Regions from separate parts of the Homo sapiens genome. Here regions 2 and 3 are each reported to be linked to region 1. The links are microRNA targets in miRTarBase. Many come from high-throughput screens and were not tested one by one. Region 1 holds a microRNA gene; each other region holds the end of a gene's coding sequence. Distances are between the middles of the regions.
What was found. Region 1 holds the annotated microRNA hsa-miR-3187-5p (CCUGGGCAGCGUGUGGCUGAAGG, at 1,852-1,874, shown strand). A microRNA usually pairs through its seed, bases 2 to 8, with sites in the 3' UTR of a target mRNA and lowers its output. Matches are read on the target gene's strand: a 7mer-m8 pairs with bases 2 to 8, a 7mer-A1 pairs with bases 2 to 7 and ends in A, and an 8mer does both.

Region 1 (3,000 bases):
GGGGCGGGCGTGTCGCCGCCTCTGGCATCGCCTCCGGTTGCCTTACACCACGCCTTCACCTGCAGTCGCCTAGAAAACTTGCTCTCAAACTTCAGGGTTTTTTCTTCCTTCAAATTTTGGACCAAAGTCTCATTTCTGTGTTTTGCCTGCCTCTGATGCTGGGACCCGGAAGGCGGGCGCTCCTCCTGTCTTCTCTGTGCTCTTTCTACCGCCCCCGCGTCCTGTCCCGGGGGCTCTCCTAGGATCCCCTTTCCGTAAAAGCGTGTAACAAGGGTGTAAATATTTATAATTTTTTATACCTGTTGTGAGACCCGAGGGGCGGCGGCGCGGTTTTTTATGGTGACACAAATGTATATTTTGCTAACAGCAATTCCAGGCTCAGTATTGTGACCGCGGAGCCACAGGGGACCCCACGCACATTCCGTTGCCTTACCCGATGGCTTGTGACGCGGAGAGAACCGATTAAAACCGTTTGAGAAACTCCTCCCTTGTCTAGCCCTGTGTTCGCTGTGGACGCTGTAGAGGCAGGTTGGCCAGTCTGTACCTGGACTTCGAATAAATCTTCTGTATCCTCGCTCCGTTCCGCCTTCGTTGCTGGCTTCCTCTTTCTGTGCCGCGGGCGGCCCCGACTCCCGCCCGGGTGTCCGCCGAAGCGCCAGGTGGGGCCACGGGCGGGGTGGGCCCGGCCCTGAGAGTGGGGGTCCCTGCGTGGGGCGTGCGGGCCAGAGCGAATGACCAAGAGCCGGACCTCGGTTTCTGCCGCTTTATTGAGCATCCGCGCGGCCGCCCGCGCCCTCGGCCCGCCCCCCGCCCGCCCCCGGCCCCGCCGCGCTAGTCGGGGAAGCGGCGCGCCTGCATCTTGCGGAAGTAGCCCTCGGCCTCCGCCTCCGCCTCGCGCTCCGCCAGCCCCAGGCCGCCCGCGTGGCGCCGCAGCGTGGACTCCCGGCTGCCCGGGCCCAGCGCCCCATCGGCCGCGCCCAGCGGGGGCAGCCCCTCGCCCGTGGCCAGGTTGACGGTGGCCACGGCCCCGAACCGCGGCTCCTCCTGGTCCACGTCGCTGACCGACGAGCCGGGGGACACGCCCGGGGGCTTGGCCCCGCCGCGGAAGCCGCGCGCCAGGTCCCCCAGCTCGTAGCCGCCGTCGGCCTCCGCCTTGGCCCCGCCGCCCGCCGCCTTCCACTCCCAGGGCGCGCCGCCGGCCGACAGGTGCACCACGGGGTGGTGCGGCGCGTGCGCGTCGATGGTCACGATGCTGGCGGAGTCGCGGTCCGACGGCGACCGGTACTGCGAGGAGTCGGAGCTGGCGCTGGACGACGACGCCGTCTCGGCCGCCTTGGGGCCCGGCGCGCCCGGAGCCTTGGACATGGCGATGACCTGCAGCAGCCGCGGAGGGTTGGCCACTGCCGCCCCGCTCTTCTCGGCCATCATGAGCCACTTGGCGCGCACCCCGGCGCCGCTTTTGGGGGACAGGCCGGCCCCCGTCTGCGCGCCCTCCTCCGGGATGTGCACCAGCGGCGGCGGCCCCGCGCGCGGTGGGAGGATGACCCGAGGCCCCAGCCCCGGCCGCGCCTGCACGGTGGGGTAGAGCGAGGGCGGGGCCGGGCCCTCGTCCTCCTCCTCTTCCTCCTCCTCCTCTTCCTCTTCGTCCTCCTCCTCTTCCTCCTCCTCCGCCATGGGTTCGGCGGGCGCGCGCAGGTGCCCGGGGCTGGCGTCGTCGGGCAGCCCCAGGCCGCGGCCCTCCAGGCTCTTCTGCTTCCACTCGCTGATGAGCTGCTTGGAGCGCGAGGCGTCCAGCGGCACGTGGATGGTCATGTGGCGGCGCGCGGGGTCGTCCAGCGAGGGCGCGCTGGCCCTGGGCAGCGTGTGGCTGAAGGTCACCATGTTCTCCTTGGCCATGGGGCTGCGCGGGGCCAGCAGGTCCACGTCCACGCTGGCGCGCTTCAGGCTGCCCAGCGAGGTCTTCTCGCGGGCCACGGGCCGGGGCGCGCCCTCCAGCCGCCCTGGGGGCCCCAGCTCGTCGGTGCTCACCGACTTATTCTGCTGATAAACCGAGTCGTGGCCCCGCTGCGTCAGGGCCCGCAGCGCGTCCTTGGCGGGGGCCGGGGCCGCGGGCTTCTCTGCAGGTGGGGCCTGGAAGTTGCCCACCGCGTGGCAGGCCTGTCGGGGAGAGGGGTCTGGGGGTGAGGCCTGGGGCTCAGAGGGCTCCTCCCCTGTGATCGTTGGACTTGCCGCGGGGGGCTCTGGACCGGGGGTGGGGGCTGGCAAGCTCTTGTCCAGTGGGACCGGTTCCCACCCCAAGGTTGCTGACCCAGCACATCGGGCAGGTCTGAGCCCACGGGATTCTGACTCCAGCATTCCAAGGGCGAGACACTTCAGCACCCATGCCTTCCCCCTAAGACCCCTTCGGGACCCACGTCTATCCCCTCAGACACCCTGGGCACCCGTGCCTCCCCCCTAGAGCCCCTGGGCACCCATGCCTCCCCCCTCAGACCCTCTGGGCCAGCCCCCCGCCAGAACCCCTGGGAACCATGCCTCACCCCTCAGGCTACCAGCCTCCCCTGTCAGACCCCCTGAGCCTGCCTCCCACCTCAGACCCCTGGGCCAGCCTCCCCACTCAGGCCCTGTGGGCACTCATGCCTCCCCCCTCAGATCCCCTGGGAACCCATGCCGACCCCCATCAGAACCTGCCACTCACCAGGTAGGCAGCGATGCCCGCCCCGATGAGGAAGCCGGCATACACGTCCACAGGGTGGCTGCGGTACTGCGTGATCTGCGTGAGCCCGCATACGCCCGCGGCGATGGCAAAGGCGAAGACCAGGATGGGCTTCAGCAGCTTGGTGGTGTCCGAGATGACCGAGTTGAAGTACATCTGGGGCATGGGGGTTGGGGTCAGGGAGGGCTCCCCACGGGTCAGCAAGAGGGCCTGGGAAGGGCAGTGAGGGGCCGGACTCACCGACACATAGACCGCGGCGAAGGCTGACAGCGTGGCGTGCTGGGACG
Region 2 (3,351 bases), 32 Mb from region 1:
TGTGACCATCTGAAGGAAACAAATGTACAAGGAAGCACTGTGTATCCTAAGCCCTGGGTTCCCAGAGTTTCACCTGCTGTTCATCAGGTCTGGCCTTCATATACCCGTACTGCGAGGGCTGTTTCCAATGTAAATAAATAACTGCGCAACAGTTCCTTCCTCCTTTCCTTTGTTCCTCCCTCCCCCCGGCCTTTTTTTTTGGCAGATGTACAGTTTGTTTATAATCACTGCATATGTCTTCTGCACACAGAAAGTATGAAGTCTGAAGTTCCCACTTAAAGTTGAAAACTCAACGGCCGGGCATAGTGGCTCACACCTGTAATCCCAGCACTTTGGGAGGCCAAGGGGGGTGAATCACAAGGTCAGGAGATCCAGACCATCCTGGCCGACATGGTGAAGCCCTGTCTCTACTAAAAATACAAAAATTAGCTGGGTGTGGTGGCACACACCTGTAATCCCAACTACTCAGGAGACTGAGGCACGAGAATCGCTTGAACCCAGGAGGTGGAGGTTGCAATGGGCCGAGATTGCACCACTGCACTCCAGCCTGGATGACAGAGTGAGACTCCATCTCAAAAAAAAAAAAAAAAAATTTAAAGTTGAAAACTCAACATGCATGAGGCAGAACAGGCTGTGTTTGTATATGAAAGGCCCAACAATGGAAGGATACAAGAAAATGATGGCAGCAGCTGCATCTAGTGAGGGAAGCAGGGGCTGGGGATCAAAAGGTACAAATTGCCCATTCAAAAAATAGACACAGGCCAGGCACAGTGGCTCACACCTGTAGTCCCAGCACTTTGGGAGGCTGAGGTGGGAGGATTGCTTGAGTCCAGGATTTCGAGATCAGCCTGGGCAACATGGCAAGACCCCATCTCTACAAAAAAATCAAAAAAATTAGCCAGGCATGGTGGCTCATGCCTGTAGTCCCAGCTACTCAGGAGGGTGAGGTGGGAGGATTGCTTGAGCCCGGAAGGTTGAGGCTGCCATGAGCCACAATTGCGCCACTGTCCTCCTGCCTGGGTGACAAAGCGAGACCCTGTCTTGAAAAAAAGACAAAAACAAAAAATAAGCACAAAGATACCATCTGTCTTAGAAAATACTAAGATAACTTGACAGCTTTTTAAGTTCTGCTTTGTGAAATGTTAGTAACTAAAAAAATCAGAACATTAGAAACTGTGTGCATTGGGGAGAAACAATTTGAAAGAGGAGGGAATGAAAATGAAATAAAAGTAAAAAGAAATATTAACTCGGGTAAATGAATATGTTTATTTAAATATGTATACAAGCATGGCCCTAGGAGCAGCAGATACACTTTCCCAAAGGTGGTTGCTTCCTTTAAGATATTGCACAATAGAAAATAAACTCTTGTCAATCCTTAAAATTAGTCTTCAATGCTATGTATTTTAGCTATGTAACTTGTACTGTGTCAACAGTGAACCTTATTAGATTCACGGTGTCATCGAACTTATAGCAAGATAAAAATCAATCAGTAGGAATGTCATTTTAAAAAGTAAAATAGTGGGACGGTTGTGGTGGCTCATGCCTGTAATCCCAGCACTTTGGGAGGCTGAGGTGGGTGGATCATTTGAGGTCAGGATTTCGAAACCCGCCTGGCCAACATGGTGAAACCTCACCTCAACTAAAAATACAAAAATCAGCCAGGCATGCTGGAGGGCACCTTGTAGTCCCAGCTATTTGGGAGGCTGAGGTAGGAGAATCGCTTGATCCCAGGGGGCGGAGGTTGCACTGAGCTGAGATCACACCACTGCACTCCAGCCTGGGCAACACAGCAAGACGCTATCTCAAACAAAAAAAGGAAGTCAAATAGAGCTTTAAACCTGAATCATTTACATCTTTACTTTATAAAATGTAAAACTACTTTTTTACCCAAGACTTAAAATATAGAATTATGTAACTTCTACTTTAAACAAAATGAAAAATGTTTTGAGTATCAAACAGTATATTATCTACCTTGTAGACAGCATCTTCATCTAACACTGCCACTGTGTTAGTAATTCTTAAATGACATCAAACTAGAAGAAAAGCTGCTCCTACATTGTTTTTATTTAATAAGACAAATTTGGCACTAGACTTTTTCTAGAAATAGCATTCATAGTCTATCGATATAATAGTAACATCTTGTTTTAGGTTAATGAATTCCTATTAGGAAGCAGCACTTTGGGACAGTTTTTAGTGACACTAATTTAATTCTATCATTACAGTCCTCTGACCTGCCTTAATTCCAGGATCATCTGAATTCTAGGTTAAGGAATGATTATTAGCCAAACCTGGAAACAACTACAAATTGTACTGATATAGGTAACCCCAATTTAATAGTGACTAAAAGTCATAATTGTCACCATTAAAAATAGCCATATTTCATATCTTCAACACTATTCTATTTACAATACTTTATATAATAAATAACTTACAGCAGTATAGTAACACACCTCAAAAAAGTTCTTTTTTCACTAATTCCTAGAGGTTTCTTGGTTACTTTCCTTCATAAAAACACATCAAATGTGAGTTTACACTATGAGAAAAACAGGATTTGAGAACAGATAGATAGATATTTTCCATTATGGCACAAACGTTTAAGGCCGAGTCAGCACCGGAAATGTTCAGGGCCTGAACATGTTTGTTTCCTCACATTAGTACCAAGAACTGTCTGAGTTGAGAAGGCTGAAAGGGGAGGGCAGCTTCTTCTTGACCTGAGGCCGTGCAGCCCCGACCGATGGGAGGCACAAGGTGCTGGCTGACTTCTGTCTGTTCTTGTTGGTGCCCCAACTCAGGAAGGAAAGCTTCTTGGAGATTTTCTTGGTTTTATCAGTTTTGTCGTCATCATCAATGGCTAAGCAGATCATGGAGTACGTTTTCTGCATTCCCACGGAGTATGTGGCACTCTTATTATGCTGCACATAGAAAAGTAAGAAAAAGGGCGTCAGGCATCATCAAGATAGATGATAAAAACTACGAAGTTTGGCCAGGCGCGGTGGCTCACACCTGTAATCCCAACAGTTTGGGAGGCCGAGGAAGGCGGATCACTTGAGGTCAGGAGTTCAAGACCAGCCTGGCCAACATGGTGAAACCCCATCTCTACTAAAATACAAAAATTAACCAGGTGTGGTGGTGGATGTCTGTAGTCCCAGCTGCTTGGAGCCTGGGCACAAGAATCACTTGAACCCAGGAGGTGGAGGTTGCAGTGAGCTGAGATCACACCACTGCACTCCAACCTGGGTGACAGAGCAGGATTCTGTCTCCAAAAAATAAATTGAACAGACATAATTCGGAAACTCAGGTGACCAATGCTTATATAGAATTAGGTTCTTAAAACAAGGACAAACTTTTTTT
Region 3 (3,351 bases), not on the chromosome of region 1:
TAGAATGTTAATTCCTATAGCAAGAACTTGTGACATTATAAAATGTGGTTTACCATAGAAAGTCGCTAGATTTCCCATGTTTTCTTAAAATTAAATGTACTAAAAAATCCAAATGTAATAGAAAAATGCAATCACATAGGTGCTTTAAACAGACATTTCTGAATAACACTGCATTCTAACTCATGAGTACAAAGAAATGTGTATGCTATTTATACATTTTCTTAGTGTTCCCTACCTTTGGACTCCAATCATTTTAACGTATCCGTATACTGGAGATTTGATCACAGTATATGGCACTTCACAATAACATTCCATGTCCTAATAATGTGAAATGCCTGTATACAATCTGAGTATATTGTTTAGTCAGAAAACATCAAAATTAAGGATATAGGACATGGAATGTCTGTTAAGTGCTGAGTTTTTCTGACTAGAGTTTAATCTAGCCAGTGTTAATGTGGAAGCTGTATGCTTTTTTCATGGGCATGTTCGAATTTTTTCTTTCAAAATGTTTCTCAACTTTTTGATGTGACACTTTGTTTTCTCCCAAGTCACTCTAAGGGTTCTATCAACATCTTTCTTTGAAAACAGCCCAAAAACATATTTTTAAAATGAAAAAAAAATTCACAAGAGAATCAAGATTTGGTTTTAATCTATTATTTACATATTTGTAAACTGCTGTTAAAATGCTCTCAAAAATGTTATTTAGGAAGGCACAATTTGGTAGCATCAATTTTTTATTTATAGTTTTTTCTAAACAAGATCCGAAGAAACTTCCACTTTAATTTTCCCCTTGGAGTACTTAAAGTACTTCAAGGTTCAATGTCAAATGCAGATAAAACCCCTTCATTTTCAAACTTACTAAGTGTTAACAATACATTTGATAGTGAGCAGAATATGAAAGTACAGATGTTATCAAAAGAGGAAATTCTTATGATACTAGGTTCAGAGATTAAAGAATTTGAAACAAGGGCTTTCATGACTGGGGAAAATCAAAGCTTTTCTTGAAGGGAGTGGGCTTTTAATACTCGAGCTATTAATTAAATGCAGAAATGAGATAACATAGTTATCCTGAACATCAAAAAAGCAACAGCTAATACAGCTAATGCATTATAAATAATGTATTTCATAACTGAATTAGTAAAGCATGGTTACCACTCTAGGCTAGACACTAATCAGTATAACCATTTGTAGTTTCTAATTTTAAAAAGTTTGGCTTCATATTTAAATTTCATTTTACTATATATATATTACATATATACACACTGTTGTCTGTAACTCAAACTATAATGCTTGTCTGTAAAAAGAAGTTTTTTATTTCAGAGATGCTTAAAAGTCCCACTACTCAACCTTTTTCCTGTTTATAAAAACCAACAATTTTGAAATTACTTCTAGTGTAGAAATGCTCAATGATTCATCCAAAATTTCAAGCCCATATCAGTAGGTAGTTTCTCATAAAGTAATGTGCTGTATTTTCTAATATCATATGGTCAAATACCCTGTTCATTTATGAACATTTTTCATGGGCAAGAGTAACTGAAGACAATGGGATCAAGTTGAATATGTTGCTACTCACTTTGAATACTAAATTGTGCTTGCATCCTAAAAATTAAAATGAGCTGCAGTAAGAATTAGAATATAAACTGTGTTCATTTGTACCATACACTAAAAACTAAAATCCTAAAAATAAGAATGAAAATACCTTACTTGTTCATTGAAAAATGAAAGATGAGAAGCAATAACAATTGGTGACGATTTATTTTTATCTTTTGTTAAAGCTCTGAAATTGTAGTAAATCGCTAACTAAATTGAGGTAGAGGTAGACCCTAATGTTACTCCTTCCATGTGTCAAGTCTCTCACCTTAGGTCTCTAAGGTCACCTATAACTTAAGTCTCTCACCCTTAACTTAAATACATTTTCCCTCTTAGTACATAAGCATGATTCATTTTGGAATGTGTTGTCATGAAAGAAAAATTAAGATCATTCAAATGGTACTTTAAAAATTCTGAACTCCTAGCTAAAAAAATTCTCTTATAAAAATGTACACAAGGGCCGGGTGCGGTGGCTCACGCCTGTAATCCCAACACTTTGGGAGGCCGAGGTGGGTGGATCACCTGAGGTCAGGAGTTCAAGACCAGCCTGGCCAACGTGGCGAAACCCCATTTCTACTAAAAATACAAAAATTAGCCAGACATGTTGGCGCACGCCTGTAATCCCAGCTACTCGGGAAGCTGAGGCAGGAGAATCGCTTAAACCCAGGGGGCGGAGGTTGCAGTGAGCCGAGATTGTGCCATTGCACTCCAGCCTGGGCAACAAGAGTGAAACTCCATCTCAAAAAAACAAAAACAAAAACAAAAACAAACAAACAAAAAACACGCTAATTCAATCTTCCTTTTCTGAGAGTCTCAATTTGGAGAAAAATAATTCAATTTTCTATTTTGCTAGTAAGAAATATATTTGTTTCTCCTCCAATTGTAGAGGAAAACAAGGAAAGAGAAGATGTATGATGCAAACATCAACAGTTTCATAACGAAGACATCAGGAACATAACTAGGAGGGCTGAACATTTTACCATTCCTCCTTGAAGTTTACATATAAGCTTTGATTCATATTAAATTTTCTGCTAAAATAACTACTTCCTTTTCAGACTTCAATTCCATTAAACACACATCTATTTCCATTTTAAATCACATACAAGTGCTATGTGATCAGAGGGATGGGAAACACTAGGTAAGGCCTGGTGGGTGGTAACTTCTTCATGACTAGGTAATGGAATCACCTGTTCAACCTCTAAAGCATTTAAGTCAATGAAAATGTAATCTAGACATCCATGAAAGCCACCAACATAATTTGTGTAAGCAGGTTCACCACAAGCACTTTTCAGCTTGAAGAAATGTGTAAGAGACATATTGCATCTTTCCTCCTCCCCATTGGAAGCCCAGTCTTCATGATCCTCTGGAATGCTGCCATTGATGACAAAATGATACATTCCTGTTGATGGTGTACTATTAAAGTCCCCACAAAATATAACTGGTATGCCAGGATACAGATCACATGAAACATGTCTTATGTGAGCCAAGGCTACTGCCATTTGAATGAGGCGAATATACCCACCTATGAATATAAAAAACATTAATGTAAGTATTTTTTAAAGTTGTCTTTAAGTTAAAAAAGAAAAACTACACAAATTACAGTCTCTGGGTGACGTTCAAGATATGCATTTGTGTAAAACACTTTAAACAACTTTAAGCGTGTTTAAGTCACTTGTGATACCAAATAAAACCTACCTTTAGGATGCCAGTAAAGATGGGTATTAGCAACACATATCCTTTTAGAAGAGTCCTTTGTAGACT

Region 2: the mRNA of RHPN2 is a reported target of hsa-miR-3187-5p. Seed matches in the 3' UTR shown: 7mer-m8 at 1,778-1,784.
Region 3: the mRNA of PDE12 is a reported target of hsa-miR-3187-5p. Seed matches in the 3' UTR shown: 7mer-m8 at 2,304-2,310.

The regions. Positions count from the first base shown.
Region 1 is chr19:811,739-814,738 of GRCh38, forward strand. MIR3187 (microRNA 3187) reads left to right here and starts at 1,846; the gene lies at 1,846-1,915. PTBP1 (polypyrimidine tract binding protein 1) reads left to right here. Exons shown (of 15, transcript NM_002819.5): 15 at 1-574. PLPPR3 (phospholipid phosphatase related 3) reads right to left here. Exons shown (of 8, transcript NM_001270366.2): 6 at 2,954-3,000; 7 at 2,696-2,869; 8 at 750-2,157. The coding sequence ends at 832.
Region 2 is chr19:32,977,345-32,980,695 of GRCh38, forward strand. RHPN2 (rhophilin Rho GTPase binding protein 2) reads right to left here. Exons shown (of 15, transcript NM_033103.5): 15 at 1,248-2,912. The coding sequence ends at 2,652. It overlaps FAAP24 (FA core complex associated protein 24), which reads left to right. Exons shown (of 5, transcript NM_152266.5): 5 at 1-885. Among named protein-coding and RNA genes, the nearest start is that of FAAP24, 6.8 kb to the left of the region's middle.
Region 3 is chr3:57,559,323-57,562,673 of GRCh38, reverse strand. It overlaps PDE12 (phosphodiesterase 12), which reads right to left. Exons shown (of 3, transcript NM_177966.7): 2 at 3,286-3,351; 3 at 1-3,112. The coding sequence ends at 2,670. Among named protein-coding and RNA genes, the nearest start is that of PDE12, 4.7 kb to the right of the region's middle.